Homo sapiens: one gene and its partners. The protein of the gene in region 7 purifies or fractionates together with the protein of the main gene of each other region. This does not show direct contact. Each region holds a gene or a part of one and is shown on either strand. Other genes may lie near its edges. The genes, in order: ZDHHC18, OCIAD1, ZDHHC9, ADCY6, ZDHHC13, NDUFAF1 and IPPK.

The links.
Region 1: the proteins of IPPK (region 7) and ZDHHC18 purify together in Homo sapiens (affinity purification with mass spectrometry; 2 studies listed by BioGRID and IntAct, with this or other methods). This does not show direct contact.
Region 2: the proteins of IPPK (region 7) and OCIAD1 purify together in Homo sapiens (affinity purification with mass spectrometry; 2 studies listed by BioGRID and IntAct, with this or other methods). This does not show direct contact.
Region 3: the proteins of IPPK (region 7) and ZDHHC9 purify together in Homo sapiens (affinity purification with mass spectrometry; 2 studies listed by BioGRID and IntAct, with this or other methods). This does not show direct contact.
Region 4: the proteins of IPPK (region 7) and ADCY6 purify together in Homo sapiens (affinity purification with mass spectrometry; 2 studies listed by BioGRID and IntAct, with this or other methods). This does not show direct contact.
Region 5: the proteins of IPPK (region 7) and ZDHHC13 purify together in Homo sapiens (affinity purification with mass spectrometry; 2 studies listed by BioGRID and IntAct, with this or other methods). This does not show direct contact.
Region 6: the proteins of IPPK (region 7) and NDUFAF1 purify together in Homo sapiens (affinity purification with mass spectrometry; 2 studies listed by BioGRID and IntAct, with this or other methods). This does not show direct contact.

The regions. Positions count from the first base shown.
Region 1 is NC_000001.11:26,847,188-26,850,687, forward strand, and holds part of ZDHHC18 (palmitoyltransferase ZDHHC18), read left to right. Parts: intron 1-1,420; coding exon 1,421-1,570; intron 1,571-3,113; coding exon 3,114-3,251; intron 3,252-3,370; coding exon 3,371-3,419; intron 3,420-3,500. UniProt on the Homo sapiens protein: Palmitoyltransferase that catalyzes the addition of palmitate onto various protein substrates, such as CGAS, HRAS and LCK. Acts as a negative regulator of the cGAS-STING pathway be mediating palmitoylation and inactivation of CGAS.
Region 2 is NC_000004.12:48,851,588-48,855,087, reverse strand, and holds part of OCIAD1 (OCIA domain-containing protein 1), read right to left. Parts: intron 3,283-3,500; coding exon 3,113-3,282; coding exon of another isoform or gene 3,096-3,112; exon of another isoform or gene 2,863-3,095; intron 1-2,862. UniProt on the Homo sapiens protein: Maintains stem cell potency. Increases STAT3 phosphorylation and controls ERK phosphorylation. May act as a scaffold, increasing STAT3 recruitment onto endosomes. Involved in integrin-mediated cancer cell adhesion and colony formation in ovarian cancer.
Region 3 is NC_000023.11:129,805,887-129,809,386, forward strand, and holds part of ZDHHC9 (palmitoyltransferase ZDHHC9), read right to left. Parts: intron 601-3,500; coding exon 484-600; 3' UTR 1-483. UniProt on the Homo sapiens protein: Palmitoyltransferase that catalyzes the addition of palmitate onto various protein substrates, such as ADRB2, GSDMD, HRAS, NRAS and CGAS. The ZDHHC9-GOLGA7 complex is a palmitoyltransferase specific for HRAS and NRAS.
Region 4 is NC_000012.12:48,786,290-48,790,322, forward strand, and holds the start of ADCY6 (adenylate cyclase type 6), read right to left. Parts: upstream 2,801-4,033; 5' UTR 2,617-2,800; intron 2,568-2,616; exon of another isoform or gene 1-2,567. UniProt on the Homo sapiens protein: Catalyzes the formation of the signaling molecule cAMP downstream of G protein-coupled receptors. Functions in signaling cascades downstream of beta-adrenergic receptors in the heart and in vascular smooth muscle cells.
Region 5 is NC_000011.10:19,123,668-19,127,167, reverse strand, and holds part of ZDHHC13 (palmitoyltransferase ZDHHC13), read right to left. Parts: intron 2,260-3,500; exon of another isoform or gene 1,996-2,259; coding exon of another isoform or gene 1,988-1,995; intron 1-1,987. UniProt on the Homo sapiens protein: Palmitoyltransferase that could catalyze the addition of palmitate onto various protein substrates. Palmitoyltransferase for HTT and GAD2. May play a role in Mg(2+) transport.
Region 6 is NC_000015.10:41,395,997-41,399,496, forward strand, and holds part of NDUFAF1 (complex I intermediate-associated protein 30, mitochondrial precursor), read right to left. Parts: intron 1,145-3,500; 5' UTR 1,064-1,144; coding exon 491-1,063; intron 1-490. UniProt on the Homo sapiens protein: As part of the MCIA complex, involved in the assembly of the mitochondrial complex I.
Region 7 is NC_000009.12:92,663,632-92,667,131, reverse strand, and holds part of IPPK (inositol-pentakisphosphate 2-kinase), read left to right. Parts: intron 1-3,500. UniProt on the Homo sapiens protein: Phosphorylates Ins(1,3,4,5,6)P5 at position 2 to form Ins(1,2,3,4,5,6)P6 (InsP6 or phytate). InsP6 is involved in many processes such as mRNA export, non-homologous end-joining, endocytosis, ion channel regulation.

The DNA of each region.
Region 1 (3,500 bases), on a different chromosome or scaffold from region 7:
CCTGGCCAATTGTTCCCTAATTTTTGTTTGTTTTTAGAGACAGGGTCTTGCTCTGTCACCCTGGCTAGAGTGCAATGGAGTGATCCTGGCTCATGCTCACTGCAGCCTGGAACTCCTGGGCTCAAATGATCCTCCCACCTCAGCCTCCTTAGTAGCTGGGACTATAGTCACACGCCGTCATACCCGGCTAATTTTTGTCATTTTTTATAGAGATAGGGTCTTCCTATTTGCCCAGGCTCATCTTGAACTCCTGGGCTCAAGCAGTCCTCCCATCTTGGCCTCCCAAGGTGCTGGGACTACAGGCATGAGCCACTGCATTCGGCCTGTTTCGTAGTTTTTAATCTGTAGTCAGATTTCCACAGTTGCCCTCCAAATGTCTTTTGTTGCTGTGTTTTGTTTTGTTTTTCAAAATAAGATCCATGATGTATTGCATTTGTTTATGTCTCTTAAATCGCTTTTAATTTAGAATCATCTCCTCTCTGCCTCTCTTTCTCTCTCTCTCTTTTTTTTTTAAGACAGGTTCTGGCTTTGTTGCCCAGGCTGGAGTGCAGTGGCGTGATCTTGACTCACTGCAGCCTTCACCCCCTGGGCTCAAGTGATCCTCACTCCTCAGCCTCCCAAAGTGCTGGGATTACAGGTGTGAGCTACTGCACCCGACCTCCTCTCTCTTTTTATAAATGACATTGACTTTTGTTAGAGATCAGGCCAGCAGTCTTGTAAATGTCTCATATTCTAGATCTGACTTTTTCCTCATTGTGTTACTCACTTTGTTCCTCCATCTCCTGAACCTCCTGTAAACTGGGACATAGGTCTAGGCTTGATGAGATGCAAATAAACCTCACTGGCTGGGCGCGGTGCATCACTCCTATAATCCTGGCTGTTTGGGAAGCCAAGGTGGGCAGATCACCTGAGGTCAGGAGTTCAGACCAGCCTGGCCAACGTGGTGAAACTCTGTCTCTACTAAAAATACAAAAATTAGCTGGGCGTGGTGGCACACTCCTGTAATCCCAGCTACTCGGGAGGCTGAGGCATGAGAATCGCTTGAACCTGCGAGGTGGAGGTTGCAGTGAGCTGAGATTCACGCCACTGTACTCCAGCCTGGGCGACAGAGTGAGACTCTGCCTCAGGAAAAAAAAAAAAACCCTCACTAAGCTTTCTGGGAGTCTCCTTCTCTGACAGCCCTTCTTAGAGTGGGTAAGGCCGGCAGGTGTATGAACAGAGGCAGTCTCAGTACATGGTGGCAGTTCCTAATATTTGTCCCTGCCTTAGGCCAGACATTTTACTCCAATGTTTGTTCCTGGGAACCTGTTACCCTGAGGCTTCTCCTGGACTGGCCAGGCAGCAGTAGCTTTCCCCTGCTGGGGATCCGGGCCCTGGGCTGCCTTGGGCATTCCCCATCTTTCTCTCCTCCTTCCCTCAGACAACACAGGCAGTTCTACATACCGGCCACCCCCTCGGACCCGGGAGGTGCTGATCAACGGGCAGATGGTGAAGCTGAAGTACTGCTTCACCTGCAAGATGTTCCGGCCACCCCGAACCTCACACTGCAGTGTCTGCGACAACTGTGTGGGTGAGTAGGAGGCAGCAGGGAGGGATGCAGGGATTCCTGAGAGAGACTGAGTCGTGGGGATGGGGGGCATCAAGCATGGGGATGGCGTGGGCAGGGTCTGAAATACCCAGGGCTGGGCAGGGGGTCTGGTTCACCCAGATTTGCCCTGACTCAGGAGGGCCCAGGGGAGGGGCCCTCAGCATAACCAGGAGTGTTTTGGCTTCAGCTCAGGATTGGTGGATTCCTTCCCCCAGCTCTGAGGTGTGGGGCAGACAGACAGGCTTTGAACCCTTCTCCCAGGCTTCAGCCCGGTCCTCAAGAGGTCCAAGCTCCCAGGAAACAGACTGGAACAATAACATTCCAGATGTGTTTGGGCCAGAAAGAATGAGTTACTGTCCAGTGGCCCAGGGCCAGCTGTACTGAAAAACTTTGATCTGATTCCCAGAGTTGAGAGGGAAAAGCATCTAGCAACAGAGGCGTTTAAGCTGATGAGGTGCAGAGGATGTCACCACTGGAAATGGCTCCTGACCCTACAGCTGCCTGCAGTGGTTGTTTTGTCCCCTCTCCCTGCTCTCCAGAGGCTGTGTAGTTCTGATGGGCACCCTGAGAGGGTGTTGTAAGGGAAATAATGCATGAGAGGGCCCAGGTGAGCTGAGCCACAGTGACTGTGCATAGTTCCCAGGGCAGTGAGCTCATCATGCCAGCTCAGTACTCCCTAAGCAAGAGAACAGCAGGGAACACCCCCCCGTGACGGCATGCAGTGAAGGGGGTGACTCAGTGGGCACCATTCATCCCCAAGGAGCTGCCCCGCCCACGCCGTGCAAAGGGCACTGGCCTTGGCATGAGGCCTGCAATGGGCTTGTGACCCACATTCCCACAAGGACTTTCTTTACCAGTCTGGGTGTGCCTCCACCCCCGGGGACAGTGTGCAGGTGAGCTCAGCCCTTTGACCTGGCCTGTGATGCTGGCTGGCTGTGAACCCCATTGCAGCTCAGCCCCTCCCTGGGCCGCTAGTCCTAGAGCAGGAGACGGGTTGTTGACTGTTAGCATGTGGTTGGGATGGTAGACCAGGTGACAAGTATTTTTGTGAGTCTTTGTGCCGGCACTGCTCTGGATCCTGGGGAGTCAGCATGGTGTAAGACCAGCACAGCCCCCCTCGCCCATGGAGCTTACAGTCAAGTAGGGCTGATTGGCCAATCCAGTTATTATAAATAAGCATAAAAACACACATGGGCAGAGTGTGACAAAAGAGAAGTGATGGGGCAGATAACAGGGGCCCCCTCCCCTAGTCTGGGATTGGAAGAGACTTTCTTAAGGAGGTGGCTTTGCAGCTGAGACGCGAAGGAGAAGTTCCAGTTAACCAGGTAAAGAGACGAGAGAATGTATCAGGCAGTGGGAACTGGTACACAAAGGACCAGAGGCAGGTGTGTCCAAGGCCTGGGAGCCAGCTGGTGCTGCGAGAGTGAACGGGGTAGGAAAGCCCCAGCCATGGGTGAGGCCGCCAAATGCCTGTGCTGGCTGCAGGCCAGCCCACACTAACCCATCGCCCCTTGCCCTTGTCCAGAACGATTTGACCATCACTGCCCCTGGGTGGGCAACTGTGTGGGGAGACGGAACTATCGCTTCTTCTACGCGTTTATTCTCTCCCTCTCATTCCTGACGGCCTTCATCTTCGCCTGTGTGGTCACCCACCTGACGTTGCGTGAGTTGTGGGTGAGGGCAGTGGGGAGTGGAAGGGGTCAGCCAGCAAGCTCAAGGGTCAGCAAGCTTCAGCAGTCACTGTCCCTCTGAGCTTGTCCTCTCCTGTTTCTTTCTCCCCAGGCGCTCAGGGAAGCAACTTCCTCTCCACTCTGAAGGAGACACCAGCAAGATATCCTTTGTCAGCTAGAGGACACTCCAGTGGGAACTGAGGTCCCTTCACTGGGTGGGTGCCCTGCCTCATCCTCTAATC
Region 2 (3,500 bases), on a different chromosome or scaffold from region 7:
TATAAAATTCTGGAACAAATAATGAAAATATACATCAGACAGAAGAAGACTGGGGAGAATTTCCCACACTATGGAGAGAACATGATTTACTATTTTGGGAAGGTTATAAAGAACTGGAAGGAATAAAAAAATGTAAAGTGGCACTGATTTAAATCTAACTGTAATAAACTCTAAGTCTCCTAACAGCTCTGAAGGAGTGCTTGCTATTTTAAAAGATTAATAACTCTCTGAATTCCTGGTAAAAGAAAGCAGAACTAAAGTAGGACTTAAACCAAAGAATAAGATGCCCTGGTAGGGGAGGATAGCATCTGGGGCAAAGCAAAAGCAGGCCACTGCTGGCCCATGTGGAGAGCAGTAAAAAAGTAGCCACTTTGATTTAGAGAAGGGGGTCAGAAGGCAGAGCAGTGGATGGATGGATGGCTGCTGTGGAAGGCATAAAATAATATTAAGACATGGCCTTGCTAAGTAGTCTGTGGGTAGATACCAAAGGGCTTTTTGTTTGTTGGCTTTTGTATGGAAAAAAACTATATAACAGAATTTCCTAATGCAAATGGTGGGGAAGATGCAAGTCATCACAAGGAAAGAGTTAGTGCATGTCTAGAATACAGTAGTGCCCCCTTATCTGTGGTTTCGCTTTCCAGGGTTTCAGTTACCTGCAGTCAACCATGGTCTGAAAATATTACATGGAACATTCCAGAAATAAACAGTTCATAAATTTTAAATTACACCCTGTTCTGAGTAGTGTGATAAAATCTTGTGAGGTTCTGCTCTGGTCCATCCAGGACTTGAATCATCCCTTTGTCCAGCATATCCACACTGTCTACACTACATGCCTGTTAGTAACTTAGTAGCCATCTAGATCAAAAAAACATAGAACATAAAGGATTTGGTAATATCTGAGGTTTCAGGCATCCACAGGGGTCTTCGAACTTATCCCCCATGGATAAGGGGGGACTACTGTACAAGAAGAATGGATTTGAACTTCAGACTGGTTAAATGAGACATAGTGAGGAACAAGGACAGCTGCCTTTGGAGATAAGATAGTGACTTTAGCCATTCTCTCCTAATCTGCCCATTCCCTTCCTTCCTTTTCTGACTAATTTGATGCCTTTGCTTCCAACCATTAAAGAAAAAAATAAAAAAATCAGAGTTGAGGATTAAGAAGCTCTCAATAACTTTCATCCAAATTCTTTAATCATCTGAACTTCCATTCTTTCCTGTCTCTTCCTTTATACAAGGCTAATACTCACCCCTTTGCCCCGACTTTTGCTCTTAAGTAGTGCTGTCCAACATAACTTTCTGCAATGATGAAAATGTTCTATATTGGCACTAACACGGTAGCCACTAGCACATGTGACTATTGAGCAAGTGAAATGCTACCAAAGCAATTGAGAAATTGAATTTTAAATTTCATTTAACTTTAATTAATTTAAATAGCCACATATGGCTAGCGGCTACTCTGACCTACCTAGAACCCCCTTCTGCATTCTCTAGAACCTTCTCTGACCTATAATCAACTTCTCCCTTTCCACTGTATACCCTCCCCTCCCTTTAACTTCTTTCCCTCTAATCTTTTAAAATTTAAAGAGTATACTCTACAAAGGTCCATAATCCCTTATCCAAACCTTGGGGTCAGGTATGTTTCACTATTCAAAGTTTCTGAGGTTTTAGAAAAATACTACAGTAAATACCCCTTATATTACTTAATATCCATCCATTCAGAGGTTTAGGACAGGAATGAGTAAGCAAACACATTAATATTTCTATAATGAAATAAAGGAAAAATCTTATCTGGCAAAGTAAATAAAGTCTACGTTTATATAACTTATGTGAATTTAGGTCAGGGTATTCTGCTAAATGAATTCAGGTCAGATTTTATTACCAGTTTAATTATTAAAAAACAAAAACAGGCCGGGGGCAGTGGCTCACACCTGTAATCCCAGCACTTTGGGAGGCCGAGGCGGGCGGATCACGAGGTCAGGAGATCAAGACCATCCTGGCCAACACAGTGAAACCCCATCTCTACTAAAAATACAAAAAATTAGCCGAGCGTGGTGGCGGGCACCTGCAGTCCCAGCTACTCAGGAGACTGAGGCAGAATGGCGTGAAGCTGGGGGGGCGGAGGTTGCAGTGAGCCGAGATCGCACCACTACAGTCCAGACTGGGCGACAGAGCAAGACTCCATCTCAAAAAAAAAAAAAAAAACAAAAAACAAAAAAAAACTTGGCTTAAACCTTTTTGAATTTCAGGATTTTAGATAAAGAATTACAGACCTGTATTTCCCGTTTCTAATTCCTCATCTTTTACTGCCGACTAGACTGAAGGAAAGAAACTAATGTTTTTTGAGTCTATTATTTGCCAGACATTGCCTCTGATTATTTCCTCTAATTCCAACAGTTCATTAAGAGAGGTAGTATCATCTCCATTCAACTGATCAAGAAACTGAAAGGATCATAAAGTAGTTATAATAATATTACTACATTATTATAATGTAGTAGTAGTATTACAAGGTCACATAGCTAGCAAATGTCAATCATGATTCAAATCCAAGCCTTAATACAAAATTGATGTTGTTGCACTTACATGTGTGATCTTCAAAGCTAGTATTTACAAACTTCACAAAGCATTTTCACATGGATTTTCTCACTTGACAACAGTTCTTTCTTGTATTACAGACAGGGAAGCTGAAAGCCTTTAAAACCCAGCCTATCAAATGTAACCTTTTTATACCTTTCCTGGAGCTCTACTTCCTGAGACACGATTTATCATTTCTTCTTCACTATTCCACTAAGCTTGCCTTAGTATTTTCAATTACTGGGACATACTAGTAATTCATCCTTGTATTTCTATATCTTCTAACAGACTGAAAGTTTTTCAGGGACAAGAACCAAGTGTTATTCATCTTCTTCCACGTCTAGCAGAGTCCTTGACACCTACTGGTCCTCAAGAAAAGTTGAATGAATGAAGAAACAAATGAACAAACATGCTGAGTTTAGGTTGATGATTGATGGTAGAACACACAGGTGATATCCAGCAGAAAAGGTCATCAAATAAAGTTTATACATACGTTGGACCATAAAATGTTGAAATTCATTTCAAGAGAAGTTTCTACCTTGGACAATATGATCAGTAATACCAGTGGGAGCAGATTCATTCATAGAAGAACTGAATGGAATTGGCTCATAATGAGGAAGCATTTCTATGTTGTCTGCTGCTGGGGATGTCACAAAAGATGATTGACCACTCACACTTGAGTCATATTTTGACTTTTGATAATAGTGCCTGTAAATGAAAATCATATTGTAGTAAGAAATATGAGTCATTGCCTATATCTTAAAGAAGTGTTAAAATAACTTCTTTCATATAGCTTATTTCCAAAATTATATATACATATAATTTTTTTTATTTTTTTGAGACAGGGTCTTGCTCTGTCACCCAGGCTATAGTGCAGTGACGCAGTCTTGGCTTATTGCAATCTCCACCTCCTAGGCTCAAGCAAT
Region 3 (3,500 bases), on a different chromosome or scaffold from region 7:
CACTCTCCCTCCTCTTCAGTCCTGAAGACCCCAAGAACCCAGTTAGGATCCCCTGGCCAGAGGTCTCTGTGACTGCCTCTGGACTCAGCACGTGCAGCAGCTTGGGAGGATTTGAGCCAGTCTCAAAAACTTTTAGCCCCAGAATGAGACCAGTGACCCCAAGCAGGAGGGCTGGGATCTGGAGGGAAGAGAGGGGGTCCAAGGGGACCCTGTGGCTGAGGCCATGGAGAACCAGTGCCAGGGCCCAAGAGACCCATTTTTCCAGTTATCAGAGGTGACTGACATCTTCTGCCACTGCCTTGAGTTCAGAAATTTAAAAAAGCTTGCAGCAAGAAAATGCCAGTGTGCAACTGGGTGACTAAAGACCAAAGAAAAACAGTTAAAAGGGACAGCTTACTTGCTCTCTGTCTCAGGTTTAACTTCTCACCTGAAATCTCTCATAGCCCTAATTAAACACAAACAAAAGTCTCTTCCATAGATAGGCTACTTCTCAGCTTCAGCTGCCTCCTGTGGTGGCTCTGGGGGCTCTGGAGGTGGCATCTCTTCGGGAGTGCTGCTGTCCTCCGGCATCTCATTTGAGTTCAGGTGTTCTGTGGGGGCCTGAGAAGGAAAAGATATGAGATTCAACACAAAGCTGTTCCTCAAAATCCAAATGCAGATAAACCTTAGACACTGAACTCTTCCTCTCAGCCCCCTGATCACACTGATGCTACAGATATGCAGCCACCAACACCAAACTCAGAACCAACACCAAGCTATCGTCTTCTCGGCAGAACACAACTGAAGTTTATTTGAGTTTGATCCTTAACTGTTGGTTGGGGACAGATTTTTCTATTATTATTAATAGTCATAATAATAGGAATCACAAATAATTACACAGGTCCTCCCCACTTCAGAACAAATGTCATAACATACTTATGTAACAAGGCCTGACCCAATGGTCCTCAATCGTGTTTCTGCCCGAACACACAGCTCATTAGAATAGTGATTCTGAACCAAAGAAGGCCAAGTGTCCAAATTTTCAGCTGGTCATATGTGGTTTGAAAATGTCCCCAAGTGATTCTAAAATACCACCCTTCTCCACTTTGAACCAAGAATAACTAACCTAGATTGTTACAATTTGAGTCCAGACTCATTTAAAAAATAATATTAAAAATGACAACAATAATATATAAACACGGGTTGCTGTACTTTAAAAGGAAATTCAAAATTTAGGAAAGGCAAAGTAGAGAACTATTATCTACCTTATAAAAAGAATTCACTTAAAAGTATGATTCTGGCCGGGCGCGGTGGCTCACGCCTGTAATCCCAGCACTTTGGGAGGCCGAGGCGGGTGGATCATGAGGTCAGGAGATCGAGACCATCCTGGCTAACAAGGTGAAACCCCGTCTCTACTAAAAATACAAAACATTAGCCGGGCGCGGTGGCGGGCGCCTGTAGTCCCAGCTACTCGGGAGGCTGAGGCAGGAGAATGGCGTGAACCCGGGAAGCGGAGCTTGCAGTGAGCCGAGATTGCGCCACTGCAGTCCGCAGTCCGGCCTGGGCGACAGAGCGAGACTCCGTCTCAGAAAAAAAAAAAAAAAAAAAAAGTATGATTCTATTTTAAAACAAAGTTCAAACTACTAAAAATCTATTAGAACTAATGAACAAGGGCCGAGTACGGTGGCTCGTGCCTATAATTCCAGCACTTTGGGAGGCCGAGGAGGGTAGATCACTTGAGGTCAGGAGTTTGAGACCAGCCTGGCCAACATGGCAAAACCCGGTCTCTACTAAAAACACAAAAATTAGCCGGTGTGGTGGTGGGCACCTGTAATCCCAGCTACTTGGGAGGCTGAGGCAGAAGAATCACTTGAACCCAGGAGGTGGAGGTTGCAGTGAGCCAAGATGGCGCTGCCGCACTCCAGCCTGGGCAACAGAGCGAAACTCCATCTCATAAAATAAAAACAAAAACAAACAAAAAAGAACTAATGAACAAGCTTGGCAAGGTTTTAGGGTATAAGATCCATATATAAAAATCAATTGTCTTTCAATACACTCCAAGTGAAAAATCCAAAAATGAAATTAGTAAAACAATTTCACTTACAATAACATGAAAAATAATCAAATATTTATGAATAAATGTAACAAAAGTGTAAAACTTATACTCTGAAAACTACAAAATGTTGTTGAAAGAAATCAAATCATACCTAAATATGTGAAAATACAGTCCATGTAAATGGCTCAGAATATTTAATCTTGTTAGGATGGCAATATTTCCCCAAATTGATCTATAGATTCAATGAAATCCCCATCAAAATTCCAGCTGGCTTCTTTTCATAAATGACAAGTTGATCCTAAGATTCATACGGAAATTTAAGGCACCCAGAAGAGCCAAAACAATCATGAAAAAGAAGTATAAAGTTGGAGGACTCACATTTCCTGATTTCAAAACTTACTACAATGCTAAAGTAATCAAGACAGCGTGGTACTAGCATAAGAACAGACATATTGAGCAATACAATAGAACTGAAAGTCCAGAAATGAACTCTCACATTTATAGATTTTCAACAAGGGTGCCAAGACAAGTCTATGGGAGAAGAATAGTCCTTTCAACAAATGGTGCAGAGACAACTGGATAGCTACAGGCAAAAGAAAGAATGTGGACCCTCTACCTCACACCATATATAAAAATTAACTCAAAATGGATCAAAAACCTAAATGTAAGAGCCAAAACTGTACAGCTCTTACAAGAAAACAAGGGCATAAATCTTCATGACTTTGGATTAGGCAACAGTTTCTCAGATATGACACCAAAAAGTACAAACAACAAAAGAAAAAAATAGACAAACTGGACTACATCAAAATTTAAAAATTTTGTGCTCCAAAGGACACTATCAAGAAAATTAAAAGATAACCCATGGAATAGGAGAAAATATTTGCAAATTGTATATCTGGTAAGAGACTTGCATACAGATTACATAAAGAACTCTTACAACTCAACAATAAAAAAGACAAACAATCCAATTAAAAAATAGACAAAAGCTCTGAACAGACACTTCTCCAATGAGCACATAAAAATGGCCAATAAGCACATGAAAAGATATTCGACATCATTAGTCATCAGGGAAATGCAAATCAAAACCACAATGAGATACCACTTCACATTCACTAAGATGGCTAGACTCAAAATGTCAGATAATAAGTGTTGCAGAGGATGTAGAGAAACTGGAACCCTCAGGCACTGCTAGTGGGGGTATAAAATGGTGCAGCCACTTTGGAAAACAGTTCAGCAGTACCTTAAAGGTTAAACATAGAGCTACCATGTGACCTAGCTATTTTACTCCCAGGTATATAGCCAAGAGAAATGAAAATATATGGCCATGCAAAAATTGGTACACAAATGTTCATAGCAGCATCACTCATAATAATCAAATGGTGGAAACAATCCAAATGTCCATCAACTGATGAATGGATAAATGAAATGTGGTATATCCATATAATGGAATATCATTTGGCCATAT
Region 4 (4,033 bases), on a different chromosome or scaffold from region 7:
CCCTGAGTCACCCTCAGCCAAGATCTGTCAGCACCCCTTCTCCTATATCCCACAGAGCAGCACGTCCTTCAACCTCCTTTTGTTTTTTGGTTTAAGACGGAGTCTCACTCTGCCCCACCTAGGCTGGAGTGCAGTGGCACAATCTCAGCTCACTGCAACCTCTGCCTCCTGGGTTCAAGCAATTCTGCCTCGGCTTCCCCATAGCTGAGATTACAAGCACCTACCACCACACCCGGCTAAATTTTGTATTTTTAGTACAGACAGGGTTTAACCATGTTGGCCAGGCTGGTCTCGAACTCCTAACCTCAGGTGATCTGCCTGTCTCGGCCTCCCAAAGTGCTGGGAGTATAGGCATGAGCCACCATGCCTGGCCCCTTCAACCTCTTAACATCACCAACAGCACCATCTGGAAGGACAGATCAGGAATACAAGACTTTTGGTCAGGCTGGCATTTGGAAAAGGTCACCAAAGAAAGCCTTGCTCTTCAAAATACTTCATTAGAAGCATGATCTTTGGCATGAGACCAGGGTTCCAAACCTTAGCGTGATTATTTGCTAGCCACACTGCCTTGGGCAAGTTATTTAACCTCTCTGTGTCAGTACCTTCATCTGCAAAATGGAAATGATAATGGTCCTCAGGAAAGAATCTAATAATGCCTGTCAAGAAGTACACACTTGAAAAATATTAGTTCTTCTCCTCACTCTACAACACTTTAAACCCAAACCTCTGTCATCGTCAAGAGATGGAAAGATGAGGAAATCATGAGCAAGAACACACGTCTTTCTAGCCAGTCAGATGCCTGGTTCTATCAGTCCCTGTGTCCTTGGCTGTCAGTCCCCAGAGCTGCTGGAGACAGAGCCCAGAGTGAGCAGGTTTCCCACCACCATCCACCACCCACAACATTTTGCTTCAGCCTCCTCCATTCACCAGTCCCCTTCCCTGTTCTTATCTCCCCCAACACACCACCCCCACCAGCACTGGCCCGGACCTGTTCCCAAAGGACTAGTTTCTGGCCATGTTCCAAGCCCCCTGGAAACACATCCTAGCATCTGGCTCATACTCACAGAGAAAGGGGCAAATGCTATCCAGGAGAATGCATGACCCTCCCAGGAACACTCTGACCCCCCCCAAGGGGATAGCTTCAGAGCTATGTAATTGTCCAACCAACTGCAACCATCCCACCCTGGGCTCCACTCCAGGCACTGCCCATCCCGCAGAACTTGCCGGCCTCCCAACATTTCTGGCACCCCATGCCAGACTGGTATGGCAGGAAACAGGGTAGAGCACTGTTCCAAGCCACAAAATTTCTCTATATGGTCCCCCAACCCACTTTGTCCAGCAACCCATCACTATGAGCCCTGGGAGCACAGACCACCTCCCTCCTCCCCAGAGTCAGGCTCCTAAGCCTTGTGCCTCTACCTTCTCCTCCCCTGAGTGTTGGTCCATTTGCACTCTCACAGATCTGCTGTTCTTCATACCACCGGCTCCCACAGCCACAGCCATGTCCCATTCAGCCTGGCAGGCCCAGGCTCAGTGCCTCCCAGACCTCAAGTCCCTCCCAAACCCTGATCAGGCTGAGACCAGAGTTTGGAACCAGCCAAGGCCAAGGCCCAGCCCTAAGGATGGCTCTGCCCACTGCCTTGCCAAGCCTTCCTGGCCACCTCCTGTCTATCCCATCCCCAGGGCCCATCTGCCCCTGCCCTCCTTGGCAAAAGGAGGCTCCAGGGGATTAAAAACGACTTCAGAAAGTTCATGGTAAGAGGCACTGCCCAGGCGGGGCCCAGCAGTGCCAGCACCACCCACCATACTCGGACATGGGCCTCAATTCTTCAATTCTGGGCCTTTCCAGATGTAGAGGAGCCTACCCAGGGCCTGTATCTGTCGGTCCAGTGCCCGCTGCCGCCTTCTCCCATCCCCAGTCCTCACTCTCCCTAAAGATTACAGAGGGCTCCCACATCACCCTTTACTATGCAACCCCCACCAGGTCCCTCCAGCTCACAGGGGTAATCTGGTAAGGAGAGGATATGGGCAAAGAGGCTCCCACGCCTGATTCCACCTCTAGCCTTTCAGTCGAGCCCCAGAGTCTGCTTTGAATAAAGTCAGCTCCCCTGCCCACCCTGCGGCAGGCCTTGGGGGATGTGGGGAGCCGACCCCACCCCTTTCATTCCCAAGGTTTTGGGTGAGGGGAAGGAGAGGGACTCCCGCAGACAGAGGGCATCCCTCCCTCTGCCCAGGCCGGTTCCTCTCCCCTAAATGGAATCTCCCCCAAACTCGGAGACACCCCACAGCCCCGCAGCAAAAAACTCAGGCCAGCCCCTCCCCCAGTACGTGCCAGATCCTCCTGGCCTCCGGGCCAGCCTGGAACTCGCCCCGTGGAGGGAGGCAGGCGGCGGGCGACGGGGGTGGCGAGCGCCGGACCTAGGAGTCCTCGATCCCACTGCCTCCATGACTTCCCTTTGCCAACCCCAACTCCCTCGGGCAACACTGCCGAGACGACCCGTCCAAGGCTTCGGCGCCCCCACCCACAAACTCTTGTCGAGAGCCGCTCGGGTGCGTTCCAATCCTGGCGCACCGGGAGCCCGAGCGGCCACTTCCCCTAGCCCTCAGCGCGCTCACCTGCCGGCCCGGCTCCGCGCCTGCCCTGGGCCCCCGCCCCGCCGCCCCCGCGGGCTCCGGCCGGCCGGCCGGCCGTCCCGCGGTCCTCCGAGCCCGCGCGTCCTGGCCGTCCCGCCCGCCGTCCGCCGTCCGCCGTCCGCCCGGCCCTCGCCCCCTCCCGAGCTGTCCAGCGCAGCCGCCCTCTACCCCGGATCCAGAAGTCCCCTCCCCGCTGGCTCCCGGACTCCCCGCCTTAAAGGCACAAGCTCCTTTTGTCTGGGCATCCCCCTCCCCCTCCCCAGAAGTGGGGGCCGAGTTGCCCACTCCCCTTCCTAGCAGCGGGGTAGGGGCGGAGGAGGCCAAATAATGGGACCCCTCCCTCCGCGCGCCCCCTCCTCTCCTCCGGCCGCTTCCTCCCCCAGTCCTGGGAAGACAAGCAGCTACTGTTCTGGGATCAAGACCCCGCGGGGAGGGGACCTCGCAGCCCGGTCCCCTTCCCTTCACCCCGGCCGCCTCCTCCGGCATTCCTCTCCCGCCCTCACCCCGGGGGTCCCCGAGCGCGCCCGCAAACCCACCCCTCACGGCTACATCCCCCGCCCCGCCCACCGAGGGTCGCCTTCCTTCCTGTCAGGGTCCCAGGGGTTGGGCCGGCGCCCCGCGCCCACTCTTCATCCCCAATTCCTCCCTGCCCCTGCCCCAGCCCCAGCCCCCACCTAGCCATTCCCGCCCTGCCTGTCACGGCCCTGCGCCCTCCCGCGGGAACTCAGTTTAATAATTAATTAAGCTCTCATTCCACAAGGCGCCAGGTGTGTGCGGCCTGCTTGCCCGCACACCACTTCTTTCCTCTTCCCCCCAGTCTCTGGGGCAGCGGCCCCGAGGCGAACCTCGGGGCCCAGTGGAGGGACCCAGGGAAGGGGCACTCTCCCTGCCGCCCCCACAACCCCCCGCCCTACTCTCTGGGAGCCCCTCCCCCGCACCTGCCAACTTGCAGCCTCACCCCCAGGCATCTTTTACCCAAAGGGCTGTGCTTCTCTGCTGGGGGTTGGAGGGGCTACTGGGGTGCATTGCTAAGTGCACGAACTGAGAAACTGGGTCTTTAGTTATTTCCAGCACGGAGCAGCTGCCCAAGTTACCTGGGAGATGGGAAAATCGTGTGAAAGCTGGTTAACCCTTTGAGGATTAGAGTAATGGTGGAAGCAGAAAGGAGAAGGAGTTTCACTCCAGGATGTACGTAGGTGAGTGTGACTTTAGAGGGGGTGCCATTCTGGAGCTGGGAAGAAGGCAGCCTGCCTGGCTTCCTTTTGAGGCCCCCTCTCCATTCCCTCAGTCAGACCTCTAGCTCCTCCTTCCAATTCAGCCCTTCCCCAAGCAGCCTATTCCCCACCCAAGATCCCAAGACCTAGGTATCTGAAGATGCTTCCTCCTCAGGACCAGCCCT
Region 5 (3,500 bases), on a different chromosome or scaffold from region 7:
TACCACTTCACACTAGTCAGAATGCTATTATTCAAACGTCAAAAAATAAGAGATGCTGGCAAGGTTACAGAGACAAAGGAATGCTTATACACTGTTGATGGGAGTGAAAATTAGTTCATTGTGGAAAGCAGTATGGCGATTCCTCAACGAGCTAAAAGCAGAACTACCATTCAACCCAGCAATCCCATTACTGGGTATATACCCAAAGGACTATAAATCATTCTACTATAAAGACACATGTATGTGAATGTTGACTGTAGCACTATTCACAATAGCAAAGACATGGAATCAATGTAAATGCCCATCAATGACAAACTGGGTAAAGAAAATGTAGTACATATAAACCATGGAATACTATGCAGCCATAAAAAAGAATGAGATCATGTCTTTTGCAGGAATACGAATGGAGCTGGAGGCTATTACCCCTATGCAGGAACAGAAAACCAAATACTGCATGTTCTCACTTATAAGTGGGAGCTAAATGATGAGAACTCATGAACACAAAGAAAGGAACAGCAGGCTGGGCATGGTGGCTCATGCCTGTAATCTCAGCACTTTGGGAGGCCAAGGTGGGTGCATCACTTGAGGTAAGGAGTTCAAGAACAGCCTGGTCAACATGGTGAAACTCCGTCTCTACTAAAAAAAAAAAAAAAAAAAAAAAAAAATTAGCCAGGGTGGTGGTATGTGCCTATAGTTCCAGTTACTTGGGAAGCTGAGGCAGGAGAATCACTTGAACCTGGGAGGCAGAGGTTGCAGTGAGCCGAGATCACACCACTGCACTCCAGCTTGGGTGACAGAGCAAGACTCCACTGCAAAAAAAAAAAAGAAAAAGAAAAGAAAAAAAGAAGAAGGGAACAACAGACACTGGGGTATACTTGAGGGTGGAGGGTGGGAGGAGAGAGAGGAGCAGAAAAAATCACTACTGGGTACTAGGCTTAATACTTGGGTAAGGAAATAATCTATACAACAAACCCCCATGACATAAGTTTGTGTATATAACAAACCTGCACATGTATCCCCAAACCTAAAACAAAAGTTTTTAAAAGAAAGTTTTAAAATTTTCAGTTTTACTTAAATGAGTCCATAATCCCTCAAGGGATTATTTTGAAGGGGCACTGTTTTTAAAAAGTTAATTTACAGTAAAATTAACTTTGGTATACAGCTGTATGAATTTTAACACATGTATGTATGGAGTCACGTAACCGCCACCATCATCCTTTGCAGTCATACCCTCCCGTAACCCCAACCAACTCTTGGCAACCACTGATCTGTTGTCATTAATTCTGTCTTTCCCAGAATGTCATATAATGGAATCATACAGTACACAATCTTTTAGGAGGGGCTTCCTCCACTCAGCACAATGGTGCTGAGATTTAACCAAGTTGTTGTATGTTATCAATAATTCCTTCTTTTTTACTGCTGTGTAGTATCCCACTATATGGGTGCGTCACAGATAATCTATCCAAACAGTCTGCGTGGGTTGTTTTCCAGCTTTTGGCAATCATAAACAGAGCTGCTAAAAATATTCGTGGACAAACTTTTGTGTGAACATCCTTTCATTTCTCTAAGAATAAGACTGCTTGGCCATATGTTAGGTATATTTAAATTTATGAGAAACTGCTAAACTATTTTCCAGACTGGCTATATCACCTTGCATTGCCACTAACAACTATGAGAGTTACAATTGTTCTGCATTCTCACCAGCACTTGGGATTGTCAGTCTAATAGATGTATAGGGGCATCTCATCATGGTCTTAATTTGCATATCCTTAACGGCTAATGAAGTTGAGCATCTTTTCACATGCTTATTTGCCACCTGTATATCTTCTCTGGTGAAGTGTCTGTTCAAGTCTTTTGTCCATTTTTTAATTGAGCTGTTTGTTTTCTTACTGTTAAGTTTTGAGAGTTCTTTATATTATATATTCTAGATACAAGTCTTTTGTCAGATATGTGATTTGCAGATATTTTCTCCTGGTCTGTACCTTACCTTCCCATCTCTTAAAAGTCTGTTTCATAGAGCAGAAGTTTTAAATTTTAAAAAAGTCCAATTTATCAATTTGTTCTTTTATGGATTGTGCTTTTGGTGTCACGTCTAAAAACTACTGTCTTGGGGTCACAATTCCTCTGTTCAGAGAGTTCTCCCTCAGTGTTTCTGGTGACTGTGCTGCCAGGAAATCCCTTTGTGGCTCCTTGAGCTTTAACTAGATAGCTTCTCATAGAGCACTCGTCTGCACTGATGCTTATTTCCAGGGCTCAAGTCAAGGCTGGGGGCAAATCAGAGAGAAAAAAGGTAAATCAGCTACTGATTTGGTGGTTTTTGAATTCCGGTCTTTTTCTTCTTCAGTCCACCTGCTTTTCTGAATAGGTAAATTCTGATTTATCTGGTAAATAATCAGTACCCCCCCACACACACGCAGAATCACACACAGCTAAAAATAAACATGTAGGTAGTTAGATTAAAATGTAAATAAAAACATTACTTTAGGATGCTTTTCCTGATATCACAGTAATTATATTCAATTGGAAGAAGGCAAAGGGTTGAGGAAAAGAGTTGAACTATACTAAAAATTTCTAGAATCTCAATAAGTAACAGGTATAACAAAAAGTGCAGCTAAGATTGACAAAAAAAATCAGTGTATTTTTATATAAAAAATTTTTACTAGAATTTTAAAACCATAAAATGATAACATATTAATTTTAAAGATCTAGCAATACAGAAGTGAATACAGGGTTAACAATCCGGACTCTTTCCTCTTCAATACTGTACCACCAGAGATAACCATTATTAACAATTGGGTGCATCTTCCCTCATTATGTATATATATTTTAACATATATAATATTGTGCTATATACATACATACATCCACATTTTTAATCATTTTCTTCTTATACTTATTGAACAAAGAATAGTATCACATTATATACATTATTCTTCAACTTGCTTTTCTCATGTAACAATATATCATGTACAGTCCTGCAGTTCAGTAATATTTCACTATTGTTCCATTGTATATAGATCTAGTATAATTCATTCAACACTCCCCTTTGGTTAGAGACACAGGTTGATTTCAGCCTTTCATATCTATACACAATCAACACCCTGGGCATTCTAATTCTATAGGATTGATTCCTCAAAGTAGGACTGTTGAGTCAAAAAACGTGCATTTTAAACATAAATAGATTCTGACCAAATACTCTCCCCAATTCACAGTCCCAATAGCAAAGTATATACGTGTTCTTTCTCCCTACAAACCTTCCCAGAACTGAATATTATCAATCTTTTTACAACCTTGACACTTTGATGGCTAAAAATGGCATCCTATCTTTCACCTGTACTCCCCTAGTTGCTAATGAGTCTGAGTGTTTTGTTTGTTGTTGTTGTTGTTGTTAGGTATACTGGCTCTCCATATTTTCTCTTTTGTGGATTGCCTTTTCATAGTCTACTTGTTTTTCTAATGAATTGCACATATCTGTTTCTCTTTGTAGGTTAGAAAGATTA
Region 6 (3,500 bases), on a different chromosome or scaffold from region 7:
AGAATCGCTTGAACCTGGAGGGCGGAAGTTGCAGTGAGCCGAGATCACGCCACTGCACTCTAGCCTGGGCGACAGAGCAAGACTCCGTTTCAAAAAAAAAAAAAGAAAGCCACAGGCTAACCCTACATCCACTCTACAAAACCCCTGGTCATTACAGAGGTTGTGGTCTTTTTTAGAGGAGATGAAAATCTCTCCAAAAATCTTTCAAATGTCTAACCTCTCAGGATTCCTGAAACATAACAATGCTCGTTCCTGGCCCAAAGCAATGCGCAGAAACAAGTTAACTCCTCCTCCTCAGAAACCACTTCCCCCTTGTGCTTCCACTTCACACTTGTGCCAATAGTTACTTATCCCCAGACACAGGTGAGGTGCCAAATATAACATGCCAGGTGTTTTCATTTACAGAAACAAAAGCTATCTTCTATAGTTTATGCTACAATGAAGTTCACCCCTGTTTACTAGAAAACGATGGCTCCTGGGCCTCACCTACCCTTGGAATCCTGGATATCATTGCACAGTACCCACTTCGGGTAGACTCCCCGTCCTGAGGCGCCTCAGAGCTCAGAGTTCCATATAGCAGTGCACTTTGGTTATTCTTGCCCATTTTCAAAAACACTTCACTTCTGCCTCCAATCGTCTTATCAGAAGTCACTGTCCACTTATCCAAATCTTCTTTCCCCCGGAATTGCCAGACAACCTTGGCTTGTTCCAGCAAGACCTCATGCAGAGGGTGGCCTTCCGGTCCTCTCCAATGATCCACAATTTCATCCTTCAAAAGCCTAAAATGGTATATTGCTTCATCTCTAATTGCTTTATCGAAACTAACATCAGGCTTCTCCTCAGAAGAAGTTATATCCAAAGCAACTTCTTTCTGGTGATCTCCTTGCAAATCCCCTTCAGTCTTCCTCTGTGAGGAGGCTTTGCCAGGAGAAGCCACTGGTTTCTGAAGACTACTGGAATACTCTGCAAAGCGAATACCCAAAAATGGATACAAGGCAGAAGTTGGCTTAGAGAATTTTCTGAGAAAATAAGTACCACGCAGCAATTTGTGAACCAAAGCCATGGTACAAAAAAATCAAAATGTAAGTTTCTTCCTGGGCTAGCAAGGGCCACCAAGAAGCTTCAGCAAATAGCCCAATTCTACCTATAACAGAAGAGACATTGAAGAATTATCAGCATAGCAATGAATGCATCACAATTTCAAATTCAACAGAAATCAGGTATTTTGAAGTTTGTTAACTTATTTGTTTACTATTATTATTATTATTATTTGAGACAAGGTCTTGCTCTGTGGCCCAGGCTGGGTACAGTGGCACAATCACAGCTCACTGTAGCCTCTACTTTCTGGGCTCAAATGATCCTCCCATCTCAGCCACCCAAGTAGCTGGGATTACAAGCACACACCACCATGCCCAGCTAATTTTTAAATTTTTTGTAGAAATGGATCTCCCTGGCCAGGCACGGTCCCAGCACTTTGGGAGGCTGAGGTGGGTGGATCACGAGGTCAAGAGATAGAGACTGGGCCGGGCGCGGTGGCTGACGCCTGTAATCCCAGCACTTGGGGAGGCCGAGGCGGGTGGATCACGAGGTCAGGAAATCGAGACCATCCTGGCTAACACGGTGAAACCCCGTCTCTACTAAAAATACAAAAAATTAGCCGGGTGTGGTGGCGGGCGCCTGTAGTCCCAGCTACTGGGGAGGCTGAAGCAGGAGAATAGCGTCAACCCAGGAGGCAGAGCTTGCAGTGAGCGGAGATCCCGCCACTACACTCCAGCCTGGGCGACAGAGCGAGACTCTGTCTCGGGAAAAAAAAAAAAAAAAAAATTGAGACCATCCTGGCCAACATGGTGAAACCCCGTCTCTACTAAAAATACAAAACTTAGCTGGGTGTGGTGGTGCGCACTTGTGGTCCCAGCTACTAAGGAGGCTGAGGCAAAAGAATTCCTTGAACCTGGGAGGAGGAGGCTGCAGTGAGCCAAGATCGTGCCACTGCACTCCAGCCTGGCAACAGAGCGAGACTCTGTCTCAAAAAAAAAAAAAAAAAAAAACAGAAAGAAAGAAAAAGAAATAGATCTCCCTGTGTTGCCCATGATGGTTTTGAACTCCTAGGATCCAGTGATTCTCCCCTCGGCTTCCCAAAGTGCTGGGCTGTAGGAATGATGCACTGTCCCCGGCCTTTTTTTTTTCTTTTCTTTTTATAAGAGACTGGGTCAGGCCAGGTGTGGTAGCTCACGCCTGTAATCTCAACACTTTGGGAGGCCGAGGCGGATGGATCACCTGAGGTAAGGAGTTCGAGACCAGCCTTGACAACATGGTGAAACCCCATCTCTACTAAAAATAATCCAGGCGTGGTGGCAGACGCCTGTAATCCCAGCTACTAGGGAGCCTTAAGCAGGAGAATCACTTGAACCCAGGAGGCAGGGATTGCAGTGAGCCGAGATCACGCCACTGCACTCCAGCCTGGACAAGAGCAAAATTCCATGTGAAAAAAAAAAAAAAAGAGACAGGGTCTCTTGCTCTGTCACCCAGGCTGCAGCGCCGTGGCAAGATCGATAACTCATTGTAGCCTTGAACTCCTGGGCCCTGGACTGAAATGATTCTCCCACCTCAGCCTCCAAGGTAGCTGAGACTACAGGTGCACACCACCATGCCCAGCTAATTTTTTTAAAAAATGTTGGCCGGGTGCCGTGCATCACACCTGTAATCCCAGCACTTTGGGAGTCCAAGGTGGACGGATCACTTGAGGTCAGGAGTTCAAGACCAGCCTGGCCAAAATGGTAAAACCCCATCTCTACTAAAAATACAGAAATTAGTTGGTCATGTTGGAGAGCGCCTGTAATCCCAGCTACTGGGGAGGCTGAGGCAGGAGAATCACTTGAACCCAGGAGGCGGAGGTTGCAAGTGAGCCGAGATTGCACCACTGCACTCCAGCCTGGGTGACAAAAGTGAAATTCCATCTCAAAAAAAATAAAAAAACCAAAAATTGTAGCCCGCCACAGTGGCTCACACCTGTAATCCCAGCACTCTGGGAGTCTTAGGCAGGCAAATGACTTGTCGTCAGGAGTTGGAGACCAGCCTGCCCAACATGGTAAAACCCCGTCTCCATTAAAAATACAAAAATTGGCCTGGCACGGTGGCTCATGCCTGTAATCCCAACACTTCGGGAGGCCAGGGCAGGCGGATCACCTAGGACAGGAGTTCAAGACCAGCCTAACCAACATGGTGAAACCCCTACAGAAAATACAAACAATTAGCCAGGTGTGGTGGCCCATGCCTGTAATCCCAGCTACTTGGGAGGCCTAGGCATAAGAATCGCTTGAACCCAGGAGGCAGACGTTGCAGTGAGCCGAGATCGTGCCATTGCACTCCAGCCTGGGCGACAGAGTGACTCCAACTAAAAAAAAAAAAAAATTAGCTGGGCATGGTGGTGGGCACCTGTAATCCCAGCTACTCGGGAGGCTGAGGCAGGAGAATCGCTTGAACCTGGGAGGCAGAGGCTG
Region 7 (3,500 bases):
CAGCTTCTCTCAGAATTGAAAGGTCCCTAATGAGTCCTGTGCTGACCCCCATCCCCTCTACCATGAGAACATGATGCGCCTTCAGCCAGCCTGAGCTCGTCCTGCAGGAGCCGAGGGCCTAGGTAAGGAGATCTGCATGGTCATTGGCTGTCAGCACTAGAAGGAGCACAGTGATGTTCTTCCTGCAGTATGCAAACATGGGATGAGAGAGAGCCTTCTGTGCAGCGCAGGACTTGTAGGAAATGAGGCCTGGGGATGGAGGAACTAGGTGTGGGCTACAGGAGGGTGGGAGGTTGTGCCCAGGGTGGGCAGGAAGGTAAATAGCAGGCCAGCCATAGAGAGGCGTTTAAAGGTGTTCCTGACAGAAGGTGGTCAGCTTCCCCAAGGCCCTTCCACTCAGAGACGGCCCAGGATGATTCTCATTTTGCCTGTCAGTTTGCATTCTGCCTCTGTTTGGGATGGTTGTGCACCTGAACTTTCCCAGGCACAGGTAACCATGGTGTTCTCTGCCTCATGTGGTGTGGACCCTGTGGCATGCTTGAGAGGCTCTCGGCAGCCTGGCATGTTCCCTGGTGTGTGTCTGGAGCTCCAGACACTGACCCTGTGGGGGCTCCTTGATGAGGGAACTTCCCATCTGGGCACAGTTTCCTCGCTGCAGCCTGAAGGTGCAGTACTTGGGCCAGTGGCCACATCTCAGGTTAGTGAAGTCCACAGGTTGCCCCTTTATGCACTGCCGCAGGATTTCTCTCCTGTGTGACGCCTGCGCCTGCCTCCTTCGCCTTCAGCTTGTTGGTTTTGGCTCAGTGTCCTGTCCTATGAAGGTCACTTTAGGTTTGGTTTGTCATTCCATCTCCTAGGTGTCTTCAGATCTGGATCATGCACTTGTCTGGGGCACTGAGCCCCTTCCGGACCACCTCAGCCTTGGGGAGCAGGGGCAGAAGGTGGCCCACTCCTGTCATGACACTAAGCTGTCATGATGTTTTCCTTCTTACTGACAGAGGTGACAGGAAAGACTTTGCCATTTAGTTGGCTTACCAGCCAACTAAATTGATCACATGTGTGGACAAAGCTGCTCACTTCCAGTTGTTCCAGTTTCGTGACCTTTCTGAGAGTCTGAGAGCTTCAGATCATTTCTGCAAATTGTTTTGTTGCCTGGGGAGTTTTGGTGTCCCTTTGGTACCTGTTTAGTGCTTGGGATATTTGTCTGGGCATTGAAGGTGTGAAGCTCAAGCGGTCAGGTGCCCTTCTACTGTTTCTCTTCTCATCTTGTGTTTTAAGATTTCTGGTTCATAGATCATATATATATGTATTTTTTTTGCCATACAGCATGATTTTGTATATTTTAATAATTTAAATGATTATTTTGTAGTGGATGAATTAAGTCCTTTATATGAGGATGTGTTTACAGTTACGTAGAAAAAGCAGGTTACAAAAGAAGATGCATGATGTGGTTATAATTACAAAATGATTAGAAGAAAATAGATGAAAATGTTCTAAGTGGCTGTAACTGATAGTATCACGAATCACTTTTACTTTTTTTTGTTTTTTAAATATTTTCTGAATTTCCTACAATGGATATGTATGATACTCAGGAAAAAAGATTAATTTTTAAAAAGTTTATACTCTTTGATTTACTAATTTCTGTTCTAGTAGTCCGTTCTAAGGAGATAATTAGAAACGTAAATAAAGATCTTATACACAAAGATATCCATTACAGAATCACTTAGAACAGGTTAAGTGGAAAGCCATTGTGCAGTCCTGCAGGACTGTTAACTGGGCCATACTTCCTACTGTGGATGCTGAAAGCACATACGTTTATGTTCTCTGTTTTTTTCTGACTGTATAACATGTGCCCAAGCCCTTGGTCGCTCCCTTTTACAATTTTTAGCTGGACCTAGTTGAAATAGTCTTAGCTTTCTGTTACTGCTAGCATTTTGTTTAAACTAGTGATGTATTCTGCATTTGGGATTTTTAGTGGCGCTCTAGGCTGACGCAGCTGATGTGGCTTCTTTCCTGGTGATGTTCCTTCTTGTCTCATTTGAGCTCATTGGAGAGCTGTGCTTGTGGCTCGCTCTTTGTTTATTCCTTTCTTTGTATCTGCAGTTGCGTGATGAGGTCTGCTGTTTGGTGACTGCAGCCTGTGACAGTGCCTCTCGTGCACGGGGGTTTGTTGGTTTGGCCTTGGCTCACCTCCTACTTTTACACCTTCTGAGGTCACACAGCCACTTTTCTTCTGCCTGACTGAGCCTCCTTCTGCATCAGAATTCAGTCAGAGCAAAGCTCCCCAGTGACTTCCTGTGTCTTCTGAGAGCTGCGATCCAGGAGGGTGAGAAAAGCATCATTACTGTGTCTGCAGAGAGCAAGGCTGTGCCTAGGGCCCGGCCACTCCTGCCTTGTTGCCAAGCGGTTGGGAGATCTGAGGGCCCGGACTTGCTCACAGTTCCCTGTGGCCCTCACTGTGGGCCTCTAGGCAGCCCTGCTTCCCCTTTACAGGCAGTGAGGCTTTCCATGCCTATAGGGGTCAGCCCCATGCACGAGGTGTGCCTATCCCCACAGGCCTCCCCATGTTCTGAGAGTTGTGTGGGTGTGTGACCTCCCCCATGGCCCACACCTGTGCCTGCTTCAGTCCTGCAGAGGACACCATGAGGTCAGGACGGAGTTGCCGAGGCTTGAGGACATGCCCCATACAGGTTGGACAAGGGGCCAGCACTTACTGCGCCCTGACCCCAGGCTGTCTCCAGTCTGGCCTCCCTGCTCTTGCCTGCAGAGTACTGGGCTCCCATCCTCCACAGGCATCTTGGTGATGTCACTTTTCATCCGGTGTCAAATGTGCTTTGTATTTCTATCTGAGGCCATACATTCCCAGTGAAGCGAAGCTCACCCTTGGGAGCGCTTCCTGTTGGAGCCCAGTACCGTAAGCCCTGCTTCTTGTTCCCTCCACGGTCCTACGCATCCTGGACATCCCTTTCTGGGTTGCAGAGGTGGACTTCGGCACCTCCTGCCCCTGGTGACTGACAGACCCCGGGCAGCCTTCTCTGGCTGGGACAGAGCTGGAGCTGGAGCTGCGGGGGTAAGCTAAGGAGGGTCTACAGGGAGGGCAGCCTCTTGAGACTGGACATTTGGGATCCCCCATGGCCCCTGCCTGGGAGTCATCTTCACAATTCGGAAGAAGCTGGAGCTGAGCATTGCTTCTAGAAGGCATCCTGAGGGGTGACCCCTGCTGCTGTTGTCTTTTTCTGTCTTCCCTTCCCATGAAAGTTGTCTGATCTCAGCTTCAGGTTATCTCCTCAGCCTGATGGAAGACTTGACCTTGGTCCTTGTCTTTTGACAGATCTCTGGAACAGCTGATTTTGTGGGTGATACCCCTCCAGAGTGAGTCCTCTGTGGGTGGCGGGAAAGTCTCTCCTCATCTGTCCTGAAAGGCTCTTGTAGTTAGTAGCTTTAATTCCACCCATAAGGTGCCCCCTCAGGCTTCCCATTGGCAGGTGTCCCTTTTAATG